2 separate regions of the Homo sapiens genome follow, and region 2 is linked to region 1. The links come from fine-mapping of genetic effects on gene expression. A gene starts in region 1. The other region holds a variant in brackets. All regions are shown on one strand. Distances are between the middles of the regions.

Region 1 (11,204 bases):
CTAACCTGGGTGGGCAGGTGGGAGGCAGGGAGGCGGTGCTGATGGGGAATAGTGTTCCTGGCAGGGGGCACGGTGAGGGCTAAGGCTCTGAAGGCAGAGAGGGTCCCCCTGGCAAGTGCCAGGAGTCGGGGCACCAGCTGATTTGGGTGGGAGCGGGGATGAGGCCCCTCCCAGGCCAGGCCAAGCCTGTGCTCCACATGTTGAAAGAATGACGCCAGAAGTTGGAGGGCTGGGACCACCACCTCCACCTGGCCGAGCCACGGAGTTCACCCATGGGTGGGCCTGCCAAGTGGCGGAGGACAGTGTGGCTATGGAATGCACATAAGGTCTAAGAGTCCCCAGCTCCAGGCACCCTGTCAACCCTCTAGGTGACACCCAAGGCACAGCCAGTGAGAGCATGCTGAGGCCAGGGCTTTGCCTCTGCTGCCCCGCAGTGCTGAGGCTGGCAGGTTCTCTGGAGTCCCAAGACCCTGCACTTTCTTCCCTCTCCTGCCTCGCTCGCCACAAACAGAGCAAACGCTGGCTGCACCCGGGGTCAGTGAGGATGAGGACAGGCCCGAGACGCGTTCTACACAGGACTGGGCGTGCGGTCGGCACTCAGAACGACACGTCTGGCTTTTTGTTCCCTTTGGATAAGACTGACATCAGCACAGGCAGACAGCACTGGAAGGAGGTTTTCCCTCCAAATAGGGTCGAACCTGCTGCGTCCTTGAGGAACAGCACCCTTAAGGAGAAATGATTCTTACCCAACCAGGAGTTTCCCCAGAAGCCAGGTTTGCCTGAAGGACAAAGGCAGCTAAGTCAACGCCCCCAGCGTCTGTCCAGGGACCAGGCCCGGGGAAACCGGCAGCTTCTGCAGAGGGCCCTGGGCAGAGGAGGTGCCCTCCCTCCATTCCACTGCCTTCCCCCTGACTCCAGGAGACAGGCTGCCGCAGGCGCTAAGGATCTCCCTGCCCACCCTCAGGGGCCACTGCAGCCAGGACGCCTTCCAAGTCCTCACAATGACCTGCAGGACCGAACACTACACATCCCCAATATGCCCTGCTCGCCAGCCACGCTGACCCCCGCAACGAACCCTCCTACCAGGCCCTGGCCCAGGCAGTTGCCCCTGCCCAGAACGTTCTGGCGGCTTACCCTTGTTCAGTGGTTCTCAACTGGGGGCCACTGTGTCCCCACCCTGGGGACATCTGGCCATGTCTGGAGCCACTTCTGGTTGTCACAACTGGGGGCAGGTGGCACTCCTGGCATCAAGTAGGGAGACCATGGATATTGCTGGCACCTATCGTGCACAGGGCAGCCCCCACCACGCAGATGGCCCGGCTGGAGAAAGACACCCTGACCCGGTTAATACCAGCTCTGGCAGGGAAGCTTTCCCAACCCGGCCGGGCTCCTTCCCTCCGGAGCAGTGGCCTTGGCATGCAACCCTGGCTTCTGGAGCATGGCCACCTGATTAGCGCCCACCTCTCCCTCCAGCGGGCCATGAGCTCCACGGTGGCCCTGCTCTGTCCCCTGCATGTACAGACCACCCTGGCCTCTCCCCTGCCACCATCCGGTTCCACAACCCCACTTAGCTGTTCTCTCACGCCTCCAGACTGGACAGGGGACCCCTCTGACCCCACAGACAGCCTTCCCACCATGGCTGGGTGAGCCTGTCTACACTCGTCCCAACCTCTGTGTTCTCTCCCTGCAAGAAGAACACCAACCTGCCCTGTGCCTCCCACCTCCCACCTCCCTCTCCCCTGCACCTCTGGTTCCCAGGGCCTGCTGGGGTGCCTGCCCTCCCCTGGGGTTTCTGGACAGGAAGACAAGTCAGTATCAATTCGGAAGGGGAAGTGTGTGTGTTTGGGGGTGGGGGTGGTTCAGGGACAGGAAGTAGAAAATCAAACAATGGCACCAGGACCTGGGATAGGCGGGGCAAAGCCAGGTGGGCAGGCCAGGAGGCACCTGAGTTCAAGGGCCCCAGTTCAACCACTGGCCCCAGGACTAATGAGGAAACTGAGGCACAGGCGGCCCCAGCTCAAAGGGATTCTCTAAGAGGAGTGGTGACCCCAAAACCCCGTCTGCTGCCCTGAACCCAGGCCAGGAGGCATGGGCAGAGCCAGATGTGGGGTTCTGCCCCGCCGCGAGCACAGAGCCCAGTGACTGAGCCACAGTCACGCCTGGCCTGTGGTCCGGCCCTCCCGAGTGCGTATCTGTTCCTTCATTCACTCAGCAAATGTTTCCTGAGAAACGATCTTTGCAAAAATGTGATGGCGTTCTCCCCACTCAGAATCCTCCCCAGCACCAAAGAGAATCCAAGCTCCCTGCCTCCCCAGGCGTCCCCACACCCTCCGCTGCGAGCCCACGCTCCCACCTCTGCCCTGACCGCCCCACGGCTGGCACCTTCCTATTCGGGACTTTCTCAGAAGGCGCCTCTTGCAGGCTGCCCTCCCAGACCACCCTGGACCCAGGCGCCCCTCCTCCCACACCCCACCACTACAGCCTTGCCCTACTTCATTTGCTCTCCTTGCTACCTGCCCTTCTCTAGGCTCAGGGGCTGTCCCCTGGCTGCTGTCTCACTCCCCGCACTGGACTCCAAGGCAGTCCAAGGAGGGCACCGTCTGTCCCGCCCACAGCTGTACCCCTGCCCTGCACGGGTACACAGTAGGTGCTCAGTGAATGGTCTGTTGAGTGTTCCCTCCCTGCAGATACAGTGATGAGTTAGAGGAGACCCTGTTCTCAGGGGGATCATAGGTGGGGGGGTCCCTGACACTCAGGGCACTCCCAGAACCCTGAGCACAGGTCCCCATGTTCTGTCCCAACAGACTCAAAAAAGCCGGCAGACTGCATGGGAGAAGGCTGCAGGCCTAGTGTGGGGACAGAACGGCGAGTGCCAGTGGATTAGGGCAGGCCTGAGCCCATGGAAGGGCAGCTGGCTCCATGCTTGCTGGCAGGCAGGGAGGGAAGGGGGTGGCCAAGCAGAGCCCCGGGAAACTCAAAGCGCGGAGGGCAGCAGGTCCCCACAAGCCCCTGTGCCTGGCTGGACCCCACCTGTCTGTTCTTCCTTTCTAGCCCCTCTGAGCAAAGCTGTGTCTTGCAAGCTGGGTAACCCCTCGCCCTGATCCAGTAAAGCCCACAGGATGCAGGGGACAGGGACGGGCCACAGCTTGGGTTGGGGAGATGCCCAGGCTGGCACATGGGAATCCTGGCCCACCCAACAACCATCATGACAGCAGCTCACATTCATTCCCACCAGCATCTGATCCAGAAAGGCTGCAGCCACCTTTGTTCACCCTAGCATCTCCATCTGGCAGGTGAGGAAACTGAGGCGCACGCAGGGAGGTGAAGCAAAAAGCCAGAAGGCAGGATGGGAGCCCAGAGGGGAGCCCAGCAGAGCCAAGGGGTCTTCCAAGTGCAGAGGGGCCAGGACCCAGAGCACAGCCTGGGCCTTCCATCTCTGGGCAGGCTGGAGTGTCCCCTCTGCCTGGCATTTGAAGCCCAAGGCCATCTGGATCCCCCAAACACACACCCTCCTGCTCCATGTGCCTTCAGTCTTGCCATCCTCTGCCAAGGGGGTCCTGACTCTCGGATCCCACCCACCCACTATAAAAGCAAGATCCAAGGCCCAGGCTCTCCAGAACCCCCTGCCCCAGCATCCTCAAACAACCCCAAAGGAGGTCAACTGCAGCACAGGACACACTCTGTCTCCCGGCAGAGCCCACACATGTCCCAAGGAATAACAACTGCAAGACAAGCCTGAGCCATGCCAGGTGAGCGGGGGCCTGCACCGCCCTTGGCCACTCCTCCCCAGCAGCCCAAGCTTGCAGGTGTTACTGACACTGTCCTGCCGGGTTTGCCAAGGCCCACAGAGATCCGTAACTGGGACCCAAGGAGCATGGGGGCAGAGCCGGGGGTGAACCCCACCCCGTCAGAGCCATTCAAATGGACAGTCCCTGCCCCAGCTACCAGAGAGGGGACGGGTATCCTCCTGTCCTGCTCTCCCTCCCAGGACCCCGGCTTGTCTGAGCCTGATCCCACTCCAGAGGCCACTCCATGTGCTCTAGGCCCGGGGGGCCCACAGACCGCAGTAGAGCAGGCTGGAGTCCCCTCCATCCTCCCAGACCAGCACTCACTTTTGCGGCCTGCTTCCGCCCAGCCAAGCAAGCTGCTCCTCTTGGCCTCAGTTTCTCAATGCGCAAAGCGGATACGAGTCCCTGACCTCATCTACCAGGTCGTGGGGAGGATGAGAAGTGGTAAGAAAAGTGAAAACAAAAGGGACATGAGGTCACCAGGTTTGCATGTCACCAGCCACACCTTCCTGTGTGCTACAGCAGGGACAAAGGGAGAACACTGAGCCCGAGGGATCCCCAAGCCCACCCCCAGGGCCAGAAGGGCACAGAGCCTGGCCCAGGCCCAGTGCCACAAACACCCCTTCCCCAGGGACACGCTGCCTCCTCCTAACTCAACCGGGCACATCATGAGCATTGCCGGGCTCACCACCAGCAAAACACCCCCGCCTTGCAGCCGCCACCTCCTGAGGCTCCTTGACAGACGCCAGGAGGGCTGCCCTGCTTACAGGGGACCAGCCATCCCTACGGGGCTTTCAGTACTGCCTCCCCCCATAAAGCCACCTGCCAAGGGTGCCAACAAACTCTTCAGCGAACCCCGGGTCACAAACCAGAAACGTTTCCTGCCCCAGGTTCTGACTGGGAAAACAGGGTTGTAGGGAGAAGAGGGCACTGCTGGACACAGCCAGGACGAGGCGGGACGTCCGTTCTGCCCTGGGCCTCCAGCAGCCAGTGGGACACAAGGACGCATCACACAAGGCCCCAGCCCTCCAGAAGCCAGGACCAAGAACGGCCGGATGCCAGTGGGACTGACACTGATGGGGCTGTGCCCAGCTCTCTGGCCAGTGTTATCTCATCCTCCACCCCCACCCATGACACCCCCATCCTCAGAAGAGGAAACTCGCTCCAGAATCCCCTAGGTTCCCCAGTGGCAAAAGAGGAAGCGGGAGCCCGCAGAGCTCTGAACCGGGACTGCCCCAAGGTCAGTCGGGGTCTTCCTCGGGCCAGGCCAGAGGCTCATGCCCCCACCCTGTGAATCACCCGCTGGTCATTTTCACAGGCTGCCCCAGGGTTGGCCTGTTTGGCCAAACAACTTTGCTTGTAGATGCCGGAGAAAGTTGGTGGCAATTATATGTGCCAGACACTGAGATAAACAGCTCACGCAGATGTCTCCTTTCTGCCTCAAGACAACAGGGCAGTTGAGCTATTACTGTTCCCTCTTGGCAGATACAGAAATTGGTGGCTCAGAGAAGTTAAGTCCATTGCCCAAGGTCACACAGCTCAAAAGTAGACGCGCAGGGATTCAAACCCAGGCAACCTGCATCCAAAATCCCGCATTTCGACCCTGACTCTAAAATGCCACATTCTCCCTACCTCCTCTCCCGCGTGCCTGAGGGGCCGCGGACAGGTGAACCCCAGTGTGGCCCTCGCTGGGGCGGGCTGGGCGACCTGGGCTGGGTGCTGGGGACTTAGGGGTGACAGCGCCCCGGCGGCTCCCGAGTGCTGAGCGCGGGCGGCGTGGCAGGCGCGGTGCCAGGCGCGCTCCGCGCACCCTCCCGTTCCACCCTGCCCGGCGGCGCCGGCGTCTCCCCCACTCCACGGAGGAGCAAAGCGAGGCTCCAGGGAGGAGGGGGCTCGGCCCAGGGGGCGACAGCTGGAGAGGGGACGGCAGCTGGGGAGGTAGCTCGAATCGGCCCGACGGAGGCGGGGTGTGGGACGGGGACCAGGGGAGCTAGGCATGCCCACGCCGCGCAGCCGCTGCCCACGGAACCGGGCGCCGAACGCTGCGGCCCGGCCTCAGTTTCCCTACCCGCGAGACGGGCGCCGGACGTCACCTGGACCCCTATCCCCGGAGCCCTCCCCGGAGCTCCCAGAATTTTGAAGAACCCCGAAATGCCGGGGGAAGGCGGGAGCGTAGCTGAGGACGGGCGGGGGCTGCACGGGCGGGGGCGAGCGCCCCGCGATCCCCACAAAGCGGCCTCCGCCCCCCGCCGCCTCCTTTGTCCGGATCTCGCCGCAGCGCCGCTGACAAAGAACCCCAGCCCGCGGGCGCGGCCCCTGGAACGGACCCTCCCCCGAGCCGCGCCCGCCGGGCCGCCCCTCCCCCGCCCGCAGACCCCGGCCCGGCCCCGCCGCCGCGCGCGCCCCTCCTCGTCCTGGCCTCCCCCTTCCCGCCCCCGGGCCCCGGCGCCCCCGCCCGGCCCGAGCGCGCGGCCTGCCCCGCCCGGCTCACCATGGCGCGGCAGCGGCCCGGCCCGATCGCCCCGCAGCAGCCCCGCGGGCCCGGCTCCGCCCGCCCGGTCCGGCCGCCGCGCACTCGGGACGCAGGAGCCCCGCGCTGCGGCGGGCGGGGCCCGGCTCCTCCCCGGCTGGGGACGGGGCCTCCCAGAAAGGCCAATGGGAGCCCGCGCTGGGACGGCGGGGCGGGGCGGGCCGGGGCGGAGTCACGTGTGCTCGGGGCCGGCAGGCGGTGGGGCGGGGGCTGCGCGCGGCGGGCGGGCTCGGCCCTGGCGAGCGCGGATTGGGCGCCCGTGGGTACGGGGCCCCACTACAGGCGCCCTTCCTCTGCCAGCCTCATCCTGACCCCGGCAGGCTGCCTTGGTCCCGCCTGCTTACAGCGGAGGAAACTGAGGCACGCTGCACGGAAGAGTGCTGCATACTCCTCGAGAGCTGAGAGCGGCGGGGAATCCGGGGCAGGGGCAGGGGAGAGGCGCGACCGCTGAGGTGAATGACCTTGCTTCGGGAGGAAGCTGGGCATCAGTCGTTCGCGAATTCATTTATGTATCATTCATCCGCCCAGTCAGTCGATGGCGGAACACTGACCACGTGCCTGCCACGCCAGTCGTCGTGGGAGCAGCCACGAGCCAGACAAGGTCCCGGCCCTGACGAAGCTCTCATTCCTCTGCGGGATGAGGCTGTGAGGCATTTGCACCCCTCTGCCACCTATAATCATAGTTATTTTTAGCATAATTACCCGGTGGTTTGGCCCCCACCAAATGCCTGCCCTGTATAAACAGCCCAACACATTTTATTAAGATGACTCCGGAAGAAAGAATCTTCCCATTTTACAGATGAGGAACCTGAGGCTCCAAAGAGCTGAAGTCCCACAGCCTGCTCCTGATGGAGAGAGGGTTTTGAGGCCAGGCCTGTCTACCTGGGAAGACAGAGGCTCCAGTTATTGGAGTAATCTCCACTCATCCACCCCAAGAAGGCCATCGGCGAGAGGACACCCCAGCCCTGGGGCCCACAGAAGGGGTGAGGGTGGGTCCCTCAAGGCTTCTGTGGCCCAGGGGACTTGAGAAGACAGGAGGGGGCAGGGCGAGCTGGGACCTCCTCCTGGGAACGGGGGCCTTATTTGCTGGAAACTTCTTTCCCATTCTCAAGCAGAAGCCTCTGGAAGAGCATGGCGGGTTGGGCTCACGAGGCTGAGGTGGCCAGGCCCTCACTCCCTCCACTCAGCCTCGCTGGGCTTTCTTCCCTGCGCCCAGTGCACCAAGCCTTTCCCACCGCCAGGCCTTTGCCTATGTGGCTCCCTGCAGCTGGAACTCTTCTACTTCATCTTCCCGATCTCAGCTTAAGTGCCCCTTCCTCAGGAGGGCCCTCCCTGATCGCCCAGCCAAGAGTAGCTCCCTTGGGGTTTTTTGTTTTGTTTTTGAGACGGGGTCTTGGTCTGTCACTCAGGCTGGAGTACAGTGGTGCAATCACAGCTCACTACAGCCTCCATCCAACTCCTTCCTGGGCTCAAGCCATCGTCCCACTCAGCCTATATCTATGAATGTGGGCAGATTTGACGAAGCAATTTTTTTTCTTTTTTTTAGAGAGAAGGTCTTGCTCTGTCGCCCAGGCTGGAGTACAGTGGTGCAATCATAGGTCACTGTAACCTGGGCTCAAGCGATCCTCCTACCTCAGCCTCCCAGGTAGCTGAGACTACAGGTGCATGCCACCATGCCCGGCTAATTTTTTAATTTTTTGTAGAGATAGGGTCTCTTGTTGTTGCCTGAGCTGGTCTCAAACTCCTGGGTGATCCTCCTGCCCCGGCCTCCCAAAGTGCTGGGATTATAGGCTTGAGCCACCATGCCCAGCCTACCCATTGTGAAATTGTACATTTTTGACATTGTGTGATGAACTTTTGGTCTTCTCTCCCAGGACTAGGTGTATTGCACTCACTGCTGTGTCTACAGAACAGTGCCTGCCACACAGTGGGTGCTGAATACATGGATGTTGAATGAATGAATGATCGGACTGCAGAACTCCAGGGCGGGTTCAGCGGCAGCCTAGTCAGGAAGCCAGGCACAGGAGGTGAGCTGGGAGTTGCGCAGGAAGGGAGGACAGAAAGGCAGAGGAGAGCCCAGCTTCAGCCAGCTGCCCCACAGGCCAAAGCCGGGCATCTCAGAACAGCTCCGCCCCCACATCTGCCCAAATCCTGCCCCATCAGCCACACCTAGGAGCCCAGAATGGAAGGAAATAGGTTCTTCCCACAAAGCCAGTTCCAGCAGCCTTTGTGGTCCCCGCCTCAAGTTGGCAGAGACTTCATTAGTGGTGAGGACCTGGGAGGGGCAGGCTAAGAACCCCAGAGCCAGGACTGGCAACACGATGACAGGGGAGGCAGGGACACTTAGAGGGGAAAGATTCTTGGGGGAAAATGGTGAGGGAGATTCAGCATGGCATAGAAGCTGGGAGTCAGATTGCCAGATTCCAGGCTTTCCTGCTGGGTGGTTTTGGAAAAACAGCCGAACGTTTCTGTGCCTCAGTTTTTTCGTCTGAGAAATGGAGATGAGGCCGGGTGCGGTGGCTCACACCTGTAATCTCAGCACTTTGGGGAATGCCAAGGCAGGGGGATGGCTTGAGCTCAGGAGTTTGAGAACAGCCCTGGAAATGTAGTGAGACTCCTATCTCTAAAAAAGAAAAGTTAGCTGGCCGTGGCGTTGTGCGCCTGTACTCCCGGGTACTGGGGAGGCTGAAGTAGGAGGATTGCTTGAGCCTGGGAGGTTGAGGCTGCAGTGAGCTGTGATCACACCGTTGCACTCCAGCTTGGGTGACAGTGAGCCCTGTCTCAAAATAAATAAAATAAAATAAAATATACAGCTTCTGACCCACTAGGTCTGAGCCCCAAATCCTGCATTTTTCAAAAGTTCCCGAGTGGTGCTGATGATTCAGGGACAGACTTTGAGCAGCAAGGGCGAGTTCACTTGCTGAAAGTCACAAGGTAGTGGGCTCCAAGCCTGCACTGGAGCCCATGAGATGGGCTACAGGATCCTGCGCTTAACTGCGACCCTAACTGCTTGCTGCAGCCCCACCTTTCTCTCCCCAACAAAGAGGAGGCAGGAAGTATCGCGCCCCTCCCCCAAGCCCATTTCCTCTACCTCCCTCCGTAGTGACATCTGGCCTCACGTCCCCGGGGTTCGTCCTTACAGAATGGGATGGAGGTTCTCAGATGCTCATTAGCCAGGAGGATAATTGAGGGCTTGGGATGAGCTCACCCCAGCTCCCTGGGGCTTGCTGGGGTCCAGCTGGTGTGCCCTGTACCAGCCTGGCCCTCTGCCCACTCCCCCAGCCGCTATAAGGGCTGGGACAAGGAAGGGGGTTGCTCGGCGGGGTGGAGAGGCCTCAGCCTCAAGGGAGACTCTACAGCTGGGACTCCCTGCTCGGGTGGGCGGGCCTCTGCTCCTGGGGCATCTCTATAAGGGATCCAGGCCTGAGAACAAAATGAAAACTGCGTGGCCAGAGGGGATTTTTCCTGAAGGGTGAGATGTGAACCACTGGTGAGGTCTGCAGGGTGAGGTTAGGTGGAAGGCAGAGAGGGCATCACTCACCTCTGAAACCCATAGCAGCTCCCCATTCTAGGGGCAAGGCCTCCTTTGCTGCTAGTGTGGCCTGAGCATCTCTGTAAGGCTGGCTCAGCCCCCTTATGTCCAGGAGAGAGCACAGACCTCAGGCTCAGAATCCCGGGCAGTTGACACTCTGCAGCTAGAACTGAATGATGTGTGGGTTTCTGTGTGTGTATGTTTTAGTTACCTTCTGTGTATGATGTGGGTATTGTGTTTCTGTGTATGGTAATGACATACCCATTGCTTTTTATTTCTTATTTTCTTTGTTTTTGAGGCAGGGTCTTGATTTTTTCACTCAGGCTGGAGTCCAGTGGCACAATCACTGCTTACTGCAGCCTTGACCTCCCCGGATTCTCCCACCTCAGCCTCCTAAGTAGCTAGGACCACAGGTTTGTGTGACCCCACTCAGCTTTTTGTTTTGTTTTGTTTTTGTTTGAGACAGGATCTCACTCTGTCACCCAGGCTGGAATGCAATGGCGTGATCTTGGCTCACTGCAACCTCTGCCATCTAGGCTCAAACAATCCTACCGTCTCAGCCTCCCGAGTAGCTGGGACTACAGATGTACCACCACACTGGGCTAATTTTATTATTATTATTTTCTCTTTCCTTCCTTCCTTCCTTTCTCTCTCTCTCTTTCTTTCTTTCTCGTTTCTTTCTTCTTTCTTTTCTTTCTTTCTTTCCTTTCATAGAGTCTTGCTCTTGTTACTCAGGCTAGAGTGCAATGGCGCAATCTCGCCTCACTGCAACCTCTGCGTCCCGGGTTCAAGCGATTCTCCTGCCTCAGCCTCCCAAGTAGGTGGGATTAGAGATGCCTGCCACCACGCCTAGCTAAATTTTTTTGGTATTTTTAGTAGAGACAGGGTTTCACCATGTTGGCCATCCTGGTCTCGAACTCCTGACCTCAGTGATCCACCCTCTTCGGCCTCCCAAAGTGCTGGGATTACAGGCATGAGCCACCGCGCCTGGGCTATTATTTTTTTCTGCAGAGATGGAATCTCTCTATGTTGCCCAGGTTGGTTTCAAACTCCTGGGCTCAGCGACCTGCCCACCTCAGCCTCCCAAAGTGCTGGGATTACAGGCATGAGGTACGGCGCCCAGCCCCCATTGCTTTTTTTTTTGAGACAGTCTCACTTCGTTGCCCAGGCTGGAGTGCAGTGGCGCAATCTCGGCTCACTGCAACCTCCGCCTCCTGGGTTCAGCTGATTCTCCTGCCTCAGCCTTTTAAGTAGCAGAGAATAGAGATCCCCGCCACCAGGTCCAGATAATTTTTGTAATTTTACTAGAGACGGGGTTTCCCCATGTTGGCCAAGCTGGTCTCGAACTCCTGAC
Region 2 (11,204 bases), 31 kb before region 1:
AAAGTTTTGAAATTATAATATGTTTGAGCATGTTAGAATTTGTTCTGTATGGGCAGACTGTCCATTCTTATTAAGGCAGTTAAACAGGTTTTTGAATGGCCCCTTTTAACTTTTGGGTCAGGCTGTCACTTCTTATTTCTCTGCTCTAATAAATCACGATGGTGACTTTGGCAGGCTATCAAATGAATTTCCTTACTGGCTGCTTTTCCTTCTCTTCTTTTAACTGTGACTGTCCTCCAAGATCAGCTGCTTCTGGAGAGTGGTGTTTTGGTCCTACTAAATCACGTCCTCTCTTTGGTCTGTTTCTTCTGACAGCTTTGGGATCTGGACTTATATGCCATGCCCTTTAAACAAAGTTTTTAAAAATCTTCAACTAATTCTATACTTAGAGAAAAGTTGCAAAAATAAAACAGAGAGTTCCATAATTGCCTGTCTTTAGCCAGTTTCCCCCATTGTTAACATCTTACATAACCAATTGTTAGGTGGTTTTGTACAAACTAAGAAGTCAATGTTAGAGTTGGGTGTGGTGGCTCACACCTGTAATCTCAGCACTTTGGGAGGCTGAGGCCAGGTGGATCACTTGAGGTTAGGAGTTCGAGATCATCCTGGCCAACATGGTGAAACCTTGTCTCTACTAAAAATACAGAAAAATTAGCTGGACATGGGGGTGCATGCCTATAATCCCAGCTACTCGGGAGGCTGAGGCAGGAGAATCACTTAAGGTTGCAGTGAGCCGAGATGCACCACTGTACTCCAGCCTGGGCGACAGAACAAGAATCTGTCTCAAAAAAAAAAAAGAAAGAAAAAGAAGTTAACATTGGTTCGGTCCTATTCACTAAACTGCAGACCTCATTTGAATTGTCTCCATGTTTCCACTAGTGTCTGTTTTTGTTTCAGGATCCAGTCTGGGATCCCATATCGCAATGTGTTGGTTTTTTTCTCAGTTTCCTTCAACCTATGACAAATCCTCTGTCTTTCCTTGTCCTTTATAACCTTGACACTTCTGAAGAATATTTCTCAGGTATTTTGTAGAAAATTGCTCAATTTTGTCTGTTTTCTTGTGACTGGAATAGGTCATGTCTTTTGACAGCAATACCATAGAAATAGGTACTTCTCAGCACTTCTTATCAGGGGGTTCATATGATGTCAGTGTGTCTCCTACTGGTGACATTAACTTTGATCAGTTGGTTAAAGTAGTGTCTGCTGTGTTTCTCCACTGAAAAGTTACTATCTCTTCCTTTGTAATTAATAAATAAATACCTTGGGGGAAGATCATTTGACACTATGTAAATATATCCTCAAACTTCTGCTCATGAATTTTAGCCTCCATCAGTGGATCTTGCCTGCAACAATTACTCTGGTGTTCAAATGGTTATTTTCTGTTTCTTTCATTCTTTTTTCATTATTAGTGGAATTCTCCCTTAAAGAAGAGCTGACTGTTCTCATTAATATTATTATGGAGTCATGGGTATTTATCTTATTCTGTGTACTGTCATTGTTTATTTTGTTGCTCAAATTGTTCCAACTTTGGCTACTAGGAGGGCTTCAGCTTGGCTCCTGGGTCCTTTGGACAAACCCCCATCCTTTTATGAGCACTTCTTTACTTCATTTATTTTTTTTGAGACGGAGTTTCACTCTTGTCACCCAGGCTGGAGTGCAATGGCAAAATCTCGGCTCACTGCAACCTGCACCTCCCGGGTTCAAGCAATTCTGCTGCCTCAGCCTCCCAGATAGCTGGAATTACAGGTGCGTGCCACCACATCCGGCTAATTCTTGTATTTTTAGTAGAGATGGGGTTTCACTATGTTGGCCAGGCTGGTCTCAAACTCATGACCTCAGGTGATCCACCCGCCTTGGCCTCCCAAAGTGCTGGGATTACAGGCGTGAGCCACCATGCCCAGCCCACTTCTTTACTTCTGATACAAGATATTTCAGGCTTATCTTGTACTTTCTTCACCCCAGCTCTGGAATCAACCTCTTCTCCAAGGGCCCTGGTTTCTTTTACTGGAGAATGGCATTTAGAAACCAAGATCTACGTGCTAGGTATGCTCTTTGGTATTAGGATGTCATTACTTCTAGGTCTTCTCAGTAGATAGAACTAGGAAGTGTATTATACCCACACATGTGCATATATCTGTATTTCTCTATCCATCCCCTCTCTCTCCCTCTGTGTGTGTGTGTGTGTGTGTGTGTGTGTGTGTGTATCAAAAGCCTTAAGTTTATACTCATTCTCTCTGATTTCAATTTAACATCACAGGGTTTATTTTAGCCTTCTCTTATTAATATATAACTTCTTACTGCAACAGTGAGAGTCCTGGCTGTAATTATGTATAATGTACTTACCACAAAGAAGTAAATAAGTTCATAGTTTCAGAATTGCTAACTTATACCTCTTTAAGAAACACATTTACTACCTAGATTTACAGCATTTATGTACAGTTCTTTTTGCCTTTAGTTTTACAGCATCCAGTCAAGATACTGTTTTCCAGTTACTTAGGTTCTTTCTTCCTGTCCCATTCACCATGGTGTTACCCGTTTGCAATAGTTAGGGTTATTTGTACGTGCTGTATTCCACGTTGGGTTTGCCACATCTCGCTTGGTTTTAACTAATTGTTTAATTTTGGAGTGTGTGAAGGGTGTGTGATACATCACTGTGGCCCTAGGAGTCAGATACAAAAAGGCCTACTCAGTGCCAGGCCTCCTCAGCCCTGCCTTCCCGTTTCCAGTCCCCTTTCCCCAGCCTGGCTTATTTGTCCTGTATTTCTTTTGTTTTGTGCCATTTTACACTCATCAGATTTGTATGAAAAATTATTGACTCTGGCAGTAGGGACATACTCACTCCGACCTCATCCTTGTCGGCCACTCCTTACCTGAGGGAGAGAGGACCACACCACTGAAAGATGGGGTCATGGGATAAAACTGGAAACTTTATGGGTTTAACACCTCAATATTTTTATATCTTAGCTACTTGTGTATAATTTGGTAATATTTGATGTTTAACTGTTTTTTAAAAAAAAATTTATTTATTTACTTTGGAGGCAGAGTCTCACTCTGTTGCCCAGGCTAGAGTGCAGTGGCACGATCTTGGGATCTCAGCTCGCGGCAACCTCTGCCTCCTGGGTTCAAGTGATTCTCATGCCTCAGCCTCCCAAGTAGCTGGGATTACAGGTGCCCACCACAACACACCCGGATAATTTTTATATTTTTAGTAGAGACAGGGTTTCACCATGTTGGCCAGGCTGGTCTTGAACTTCTGAGCTCAGGCAATCCACCCACCTCGGCCTCCCAAAGTGCTAGGATTAAGAGCATGAGCCCCTGCGCCTGGCCTGTAGTTTAACTGATGTTTTATTTAGCATGTGCTAATAAAGCAAAAAGGGGATAGGAAAGAATGTACCTTTTTCTGCAGTATCTTATTCACCCTCCTTTAACACTAAATACTTTATAATCACACAAATATTATACTCCATGAAAAAAAATGAAAGCTTCACACATAAGGATAAGGTCCCTGTTGATGTTCGTTCTCCAACATCAAACCACTTTCATTATCCTTTTAGATTCTTTATACATTTCTAAACATATGTGCCTGTAGGGGAAAAAACATATATATATATATATATATACACATACATACATACACACACACACATACACACACATAACTTTTATAAGTGTGAGTTCTTTTTTTTTTTTTGTTAACATCAAAAGTCTACTCTTTCAGCCTCTGTTTGTGGTGTATAGTCCTGCCTCATTGTTTTTAACATTTGCAGAATGTTTCTTGGTGAATATCCTTGCATGTGACTCCTAACAAACATGTGGATGCTTAGCAGTGGAAATCCCAGCTGTGTCCATTCTTGTAGTCGGTACAGCAGCTGCTTTCCTGAGTGGCTGTGCCGTTTTGCCTTTTTCCACCAGCATCACATCAAATACTCATTTCTTTACTTTCATCAATACTTGATGTTTCCTTTGTCTTAAATTCTTGGCAATTTGAGGGTCAAAAGTAGTCTTTTGTTTTAATTTGCTTCCTTTTGGGATAGTGAGGTTGAGTTTATTTCCAGTAATTATTAGCCATGTATACATATTTCCTTTTCTGTGGTTTGTCCATGTTAACAATTTTCCTTGTTGATTTGTATAAGTCTTTATATATGCTAGATTTGTTCATTTAATAAATATTTTTTGACCTCTTAACTATACACCCCGGCACTTCTGTAGGTGCTGGGATACTAGCATGAAACAAAGTCTCTAATTTCACAGAAATTACAGTCAGAAGAGGAAATTGGGCCGAGTGTGGTGGCTCACACCTGTAATTCTGGCACTTTGGGAGGCAGAGGCAGGCACATCACTTGAGGTCAGGAGTTCGAGACTGCCCTGGCCAACATGGTGAAACCCCGTCTCTACTAAAAATACAAAAATTAGCTGGGTGTGGTGGCACACGCCTGTAATTGCAGCTACTTGGGAGGCTGAAGCAGGAGAATTGCTTGAGCCCATGAGACGGAGGTTGTAGTGAGCCGATATCGCACCACTGCACTCCAACCTGGGCCACAGAGCGAGACTCCATCTCAAAAAAAAAAAAAAAAAAAAAAAAAAGAGGACATTGGGCCAAAGGAAATCTAAATAAATGAATGAGATTATGCAAATGTTAATAAGTGCTATAAAAAATAGGGTAATTGGTAAAG[G/A]GAGTACCTGAATGGGTCAGGAGCCCAGTTTCCCTTTGTAAACTCTCTCCCCTAAATATTAGCTGTTAGGTGGGGTGGTCAAGGAAGGCTTCTCACAGAAAGTAGGAGCTGAGATGAGTAATGACAAGGAACCAGCCACAAGAAGTGTCCAGACAAAGAGAACAGCATGTGCCTCAGCCTGTCATCAATGGGGACAGGTCAGACCATCATAGGTGGACACAGGGGACTCCTCAGCACAAGTGATTGTCAGAGACGTTAGTCAGAGACATCCTCTCAGAAGCAGGCTTGACATCTGAGGGGCCGAGGTCGGTTTCAGGAGGAGAGGTTCCTCAGCGCCTCTTCCTTCCCTCTCTAGGCTAGGTTACCAGAAGGAGCTTAGCTGCAGGGGTTTGTGCTTCAAGACTTGATCACTGGGTTTTGTGGTTGTTTTAAGGCACAGGCCTTTTCTTTAATAAAGGAAAATTTTCTGTTTCAGATTACCTAGGAACAGTACGATTTGGGGTTATCACAAATAAACATCTTGCGAAACTGGTATCCTTAGTACACTCTGGAAGTGTGTATTTACATAGACATTTCAACACATCACTTGTAAGTATTTTGAAATCACGTTTATGTTAGCGCAGTGGTTCTTAACCTTGTTTAGGTCACAGACTCCTTTGAGAATTGGTTAAAATCTATGGACACTCTCTAGAAAAGCGCATATGATTTTATATATGGATGGAGAGTTCTTACAGCCCCACCCTAGAGCCCAGGCTCCAGGTTAAGAACCCATGCATTAGAGGGCTCTTGAAATTAATGTATAGAAATTCTTTATTTGTATTCTTAGATTTTGGTACAGACTTTAAAGTTTTTCTTCTTGGATAAAATTGCAGAGTTACTCTCTTGAAGAATTGTTACTCTGAGCCCGTGTTTTCAGAAGCTAGGCTTCCACTGAGTGATGTTCTGTGTTTATCTGTTTCTTTTATGATGAGTAGTAATGTGACATGCTTTTCTCCTTAGCTGATGTAATGGATTTTTGAAGTTCTTGTCAAGTCACAGTGAGAAGTTGATGGCTTCTCATCCCAGAGAGCGTCAGTTTTCCATTGTCGCCTTTGTTCCCCGATTTCATTTGCTTTCTGTGGAGCAGCCTGAACTCAGCTGCTTCTGAGCATTGACCTGTGTCCTGCTCAGTCCTATGCGTCTACTCTGTTGCTGCTTCCTAAGTCACATCACTGAGTTGACTTTCCTGAAGTATTCTGTCTCTCTCGCATCACTGTCAGTAACTTACAGGTCATATACAGATCAATTTCCCTGCACCCAGTGTACCCAGCCTTTAAAACCTGCGCCCCCCTTGGCACAATGTCTAAGTCTTGTGCCTTCGGAGGGGCTGTTGGGCCCACTCCAGGGGTGCCCCCTTGCTTGCCAGTCGCCCTGGCTTCTGCATATCTCTCGTAGCCCAGATGCTGTGCTTTACTTCTTGCAGTTTATATTCCAAAAGTCAAATGTATTTTTGTGTTTTCCGAATGGAAATGTTTGAGTGTAGTTTGAGTATGGTTTTTCAAACTCCCATCGTCCCACCTTGACAATCACTGCTGTGGTTGTTTCTCTGCTGCCCACCTACGCTCCTTGTGCCTCTGCCTAAGCTGCTTTGACATCATCTGCTTTTGCTATCTGTCATTTTCCTACATCCTTCATTTTTAGCATGTTACACAGCCTACATATATTTATTTATAGTAAAGGGTACTGAGAAAGAAATTAAAAGTAGATGGGGAAAGAAAGGTAGGACTATGAGATGGAAAAATATATCAGGTTTCTGCTTCGATTTGGTAGTGATTAAGGTTGGTTGGTTTGTGTAGCAGTAGAATTCCTTTTATCAAATGAAATAATACTGGGATACCATTATTTTTAAAAACACAAGCAGTGGTTAGTCTCTGTTATGAGTCAATTTAAATCTTCGTTTTGAGGAGTTTTAAATATCTCATTTTTCAGAACCCTCTGAAGCACCCCTTTGGTAGTTCTGTTTGAAGCCAGTGATTTAAATTGTTAGAATTTCAAAAATAATTTTATGTTCACATACATTGGTTGTTTATAGCAAAACAAAGCAAAAAATCTAGGTGTCTCTTTCATTTATTCGTACACGTAAAATATGATCCGTGGCCTTGTGCAAGTTTAGGTCATTTTTGATTGCTGAAGACATGTGTTGAGTTCCTGCTGTGTGCCTGGTGTTCGTCTAGGCCCGGAGGATACAGGTGAGCAGAACAGACAGCCTGTGCCGCACGGAGGCTCCATGCTGCCCTTGGGGGCAGCATTTGAAGGACCAAGGTCAAAATCTAAATGATCCTTGACTCTGTAGTTTCTGTTCCCTTAGATATGTCTTGGTCCTTTTATGAATACCCAGTGACGTTTAATACCTGTCCTTGGACAGGGTGATAGAGGTTGTTATCGCCACCAGCTGGCAGGGAGAATTATTTGTTGATAGGTGGGTCTGTCTCAAGGCAGAAAGATGAATCACACGATATGGAAGTCACCTCCTGCAACCACTTTTGTTTTTTCAACCACTTGTGAGGAAATGCTGTCTCTGGAGAAGCGGGTGTTAGCTGCACAGTGGGGCCAGGCCCCGCTCCACGCCTGGGTTTTCTCACCCTTAGTGGTGGGGTTGGAACAGCACTGATGTGCCTTGAGCTTGCCCCACCTCACGAGCTCTCCTTTATCCTCTGTGCCTTTGTCCTTCACAGGTCTTCCCCAGGGAGGTCCTGAACTACACAGCTGAGAACATCTGTAAGTGGGCCTTAGAAAACCAGGAGACGCTCTTTCGGTGGCTGCGGCCACACGGAGGCAAGAGTCTCCTGCTGAATAACGAGCTGAAGAAAGGACCAGCGCTGTTTCTGTTCATACCTTTTAATCCCCTGGCCGAAAGTCATCCTTTAATAGACGAGGTAAGAGCTGTGATGTGAAAAGCACCTCATGAGGAGTAGGAAAGCCTCATCTACCTGGCTCCTCTCATCCCACACTCAGTCATTTACTCTGGCAGCTAATGGCTGCCACGAGGGGCAGCTGTGGCTCTGAGCATTGCTCTTTGCCCCTCCATATGGGCAGGAGAGAGCCCGTGTCTAGGACAGGGACTGCCGCAGCCTCTCTGGCCATATTTATTGACAGCTGTTGGTGTCTGGAGTGAGTGGGAAGAGGCAGGGAAGCCACACCGTGCCCTTCTAGAGAAGGACCAAATGCCCTCTTCTGATGTGGCTGCTGTTGAGCTTCCTGTTTAGGGGGTGAAACAGGGAGTGGCAGGAACACAGGCCGAGTTTAGTGTGGCCTAGGAGATGCCATTGTCTTGGGGGTTTGGCCAGACTGCCAGCCCTGGCCATCCTCAGGACAGCAGAGGAGAGCGAGCAGCAGCAGCGATGTTGGGACACCTTGTTTCTCTGAACCTTCCCTGTCGTGCAGAAGCCAGAGTGGTTTTCAGAGGCAGCGCCATCGGAGCCTGCTGTTCCTGCCTGTCTTCGGCTTCATCTGGTGCGCCTGCTCTGGGCGTGAGTTTATTTTCCACACGGAGCATTTGGAGGCGCTCAGAGACAGCAGGCACATTTTGCAGAGCGAGCCTGGAGAGACAGCAGGCACAGTATGCAGAGCGAGCCTGGGGTGGCAAAATTGCATTTACTGAGGTTTTTATTTTTTCACTCCCTCAAGGATCCCTTAATTGGCCAAAACCAATTTCAGACAGCCAGTGTACCACTGGCCAGCTAAGCAGACCTGAGCCCCTCAGCGCTGGCCTGGCCTCCTGCCTGGAGGGACAGGGAGGCAGGACTTCTCGCCCAGGTGGATCCCTCCCTTTGCTGTGCTGGAGTCTTTTTGCTCAAGTTATGATTCCCTCTGGGGAGTATTCTGAATGAATGCTGCTCTTTGGTTTAGAGGAAGAAAGAGGAGAGAAATGAAATAGCTTTGTTTCTTCCCCTCTAATTAGGGAGGACTCAAAGTAATAAAACTATTTCTTTAGAAAATTTTCACTACATGGATATTTTGTGAACTGAGGCACCATTTCAAATGACTAGGCCTTTACTGTATCTAATATTAAGAGCCTTAAAGCTCATTGTAGGAAAGGAAGGTTTTCGGTCAAGGTGGTGTGGCTGTGGTTGTGGATTTGGAGAGTTCTCTCCTGTCTGGTTTGGGTGTGTCAGGGTCCTGGCTGGGTTGTATTTTGTGGCAGGAGCCCACAGCCTCTGCCCAGAGGGTTGTGGTTGGATTTAGGCACCTGGTGGGAAGACTCTTTCTCGCCTGTTGTTTCTGAATGAGTGTCCCCTCCAGCAGTCTGCAAATCCTCCACCTACCAACAGGCCTCCTTTTTATCATGGTTTTGCCTGTGACTCCTTTCTTTGGGGCTCCCATTGTCTCTGTGAGGTGAGTGCGTTCCCTTAACTTCAGCATGTGGGTGAGATGACCGAACACGAGGTGGCATCTCACCGTATTATGAATTACTCAGACAAGCAAAGTGCCTGTCCAGCACATTTCCCTTTTTGTTTCAGGTCAGTTTGGCAAATGTTTACTGAGCACTGTGCTGGGAAGCTCCAGGGGAGAAAGGATAGATGCGACACCATCTTGTCCTGTGGTCTTAGAGGCTTGTCCAGTACAGGGAGTGAAAGCCTGCCTATAATTCAAAGTAGAGGACGATCAGGCCCAGGGTCAGGAGGAACCAGAGGAGGGAGGGTGCCATCTCAGAAAGCGGGGTTCCGGGCAGGGGAGGAGTTAGCAGAGGCTTTGGATGGGTGAAGTATTCGAGACGGACTTGTAGGGGCAGCCAGGATCTTGATGGGTTGAGAAAAACTTACGGGAAGGAGGACCCTGAGCAGAGACATGAGGGACGGGAGTTGCTGCAGGTTTAGGTGTTAGGAAGGAGGCCGGGTTTTGTGGTCTGCAGGAAGGGCTAACTGGGGAGAGATCTTGAAAAAGCCTTTGGAGGAGAGGGCCTTGTGGACTTCTCTGAGGATTTCAAGATTAACCATAGTCATCCAAGTCTTTGTCTTCTCTTTTTTTTTTTTTTGAGTTAGGGTCTTCCTTTGTTGCCCAGGTTGGAGTACAGTGGCATGATCTCGGCTCACTGCCTCCTGAGCTCGGGTGATCCTCCCACCTCAGCCTCCCAAGTAGCTGGGACTACAGGTGCACGCCTCTACGCCTGGCTAATTTTTGTATTTTTCTGTAGAGATGGGGTTTCGCCATGTTACCCAGGCAGGTTTCAAAAGCCCTGGGCTCAAGCGATCGGTCTTCCTTGGCCTCCTAAAGTGTTGGGATTACAGGCATGAGCCACTGCACCTGGCCCATACAAGTCTTACTGACAGTGAAGAGATGCAGCCAGGGCTGTGCGTTATCATTACGAACGTTTTTCTGGCAGGAGGGTTCCAGAAAACTGCGAAGTAGTAAGAACCTGAACTTGGGTGGTAGAGGTGGAGGGTGGAAAGTAGGGTCTATGATCGGGGAAACTGTGACACAGTGACTAGAGATGAAGAAGCCTTTGGGTAAGGTGGGAAGGATGAACGCTGTACTTACGCAAGATGAGCTGTAAATTCATTAGCTTGTTGACCACGAAAGAGTTAGGTGGCTTTACTTTTTCATTACCACCTTAGGCCTAATATTGGGCAGAACTTTGAGGATGCTTGCATTGTTGAGAAGAGAGAGGTCATCTTAGAGTGAGTGGAATAGAGTTGGGGGCATACCAAGCACCAACATTCTGGACAGTTGTGCTGTGGTGCATGTAGGATGCCAGTCAGGAGTGACCATATGGTGGCCGCACCAAGCCCATAGTGGGTAGCTGCTTCTACACACATGCATACCTGCATGTGTACCCACACACACATGCAAAAGTACAGATCCTGACACTGGCGTGAGGCCACTGACACCCTGGTGTCTCTAGAGAGTTCTAGAGAGGTTATAAGACATCACAGTGTGTATTACACAACTTGTTAATCAAAGGAAATGCTTACCTCAGCCAGCAAAGAGTCTTCGTGACTTGTTTCCTATTTTAAAGGTGTTTATTTGAGGCATTCACATCGTCTGAATCTGGTAAGCAAAGGCGTGGTTAGCATGTTCAGGCTCACAGATTTCCCTGATTAAAGAAAATAGAAGGAAACATCTACTGTGCGAACAGTTATTTGCCAAGATTTCCTTAATTATTCACATGAAATAAATGACATCAAGTGATACACAGAATGTGACATGAGTTGTGTTTTCAAAACTGCCTGTTAGGTAAAAGGAATAGAAACATAAATTCCCCTTCATAGGAGAAAAATGATAATGCCTAACTCTTTAAGAGCATTGCTGGCTGGGCGCAGTGGCTCACGCCTGTAATCCCAGCACTTTGGGAGGCTGAGGAGGGTGGATCACATCACCTGAGATCAGGAATTCAAGACCAGCCTGGCCAACATAGTGAAACCTCGTCTCTACTAAAAATATAAAAATTAGCCAGGCATGGTGGTGTGCGCCTGTAGTCTCAGCTACTTGGGAGGCTGAGGCAGGAGAAACGCTTGAACCTGGGAGGCAGAGGTTGCAGTGAGTCAAGATGGT

The links.
Region 2: its variant is fine-mapped to the expression of SNN in whole blood (TOPMed, PIP 0.99). The same link has a PIP of 0.9 or more in visceral fat.

The regions. Positions count from the first base shown.
Region 1 is chr16:11,663,616-11,674,819 of GRCh38, reverse strand. SNN (stannin) reads right to left here and starts at 6,365. Exons shown (of 2, transcript NM_003498.6): 1 at 6,280-6,365. RefSeq lists silencers at 1,714-1,783, 6,273-6,692 and enhancers at 1,322-2,141, 5,066-5,165.
Region 2 is chr16:11,694,509-11,705,712 of GRCh38, reverse strand. It overlaps TXNDC11 (thioredoxin domain containing 11), which reads left to right. Exons shown (of 12, transcript NM_015914.7): 6 at 5,149-5,261; 7 at 7,388-7,588. Among named protein-coding and RNA genes, the nearest start is that of SNN, 32 kb to the right of the region's middle. The variant G/A (reference allele first, on the strand shown) is at 4,674.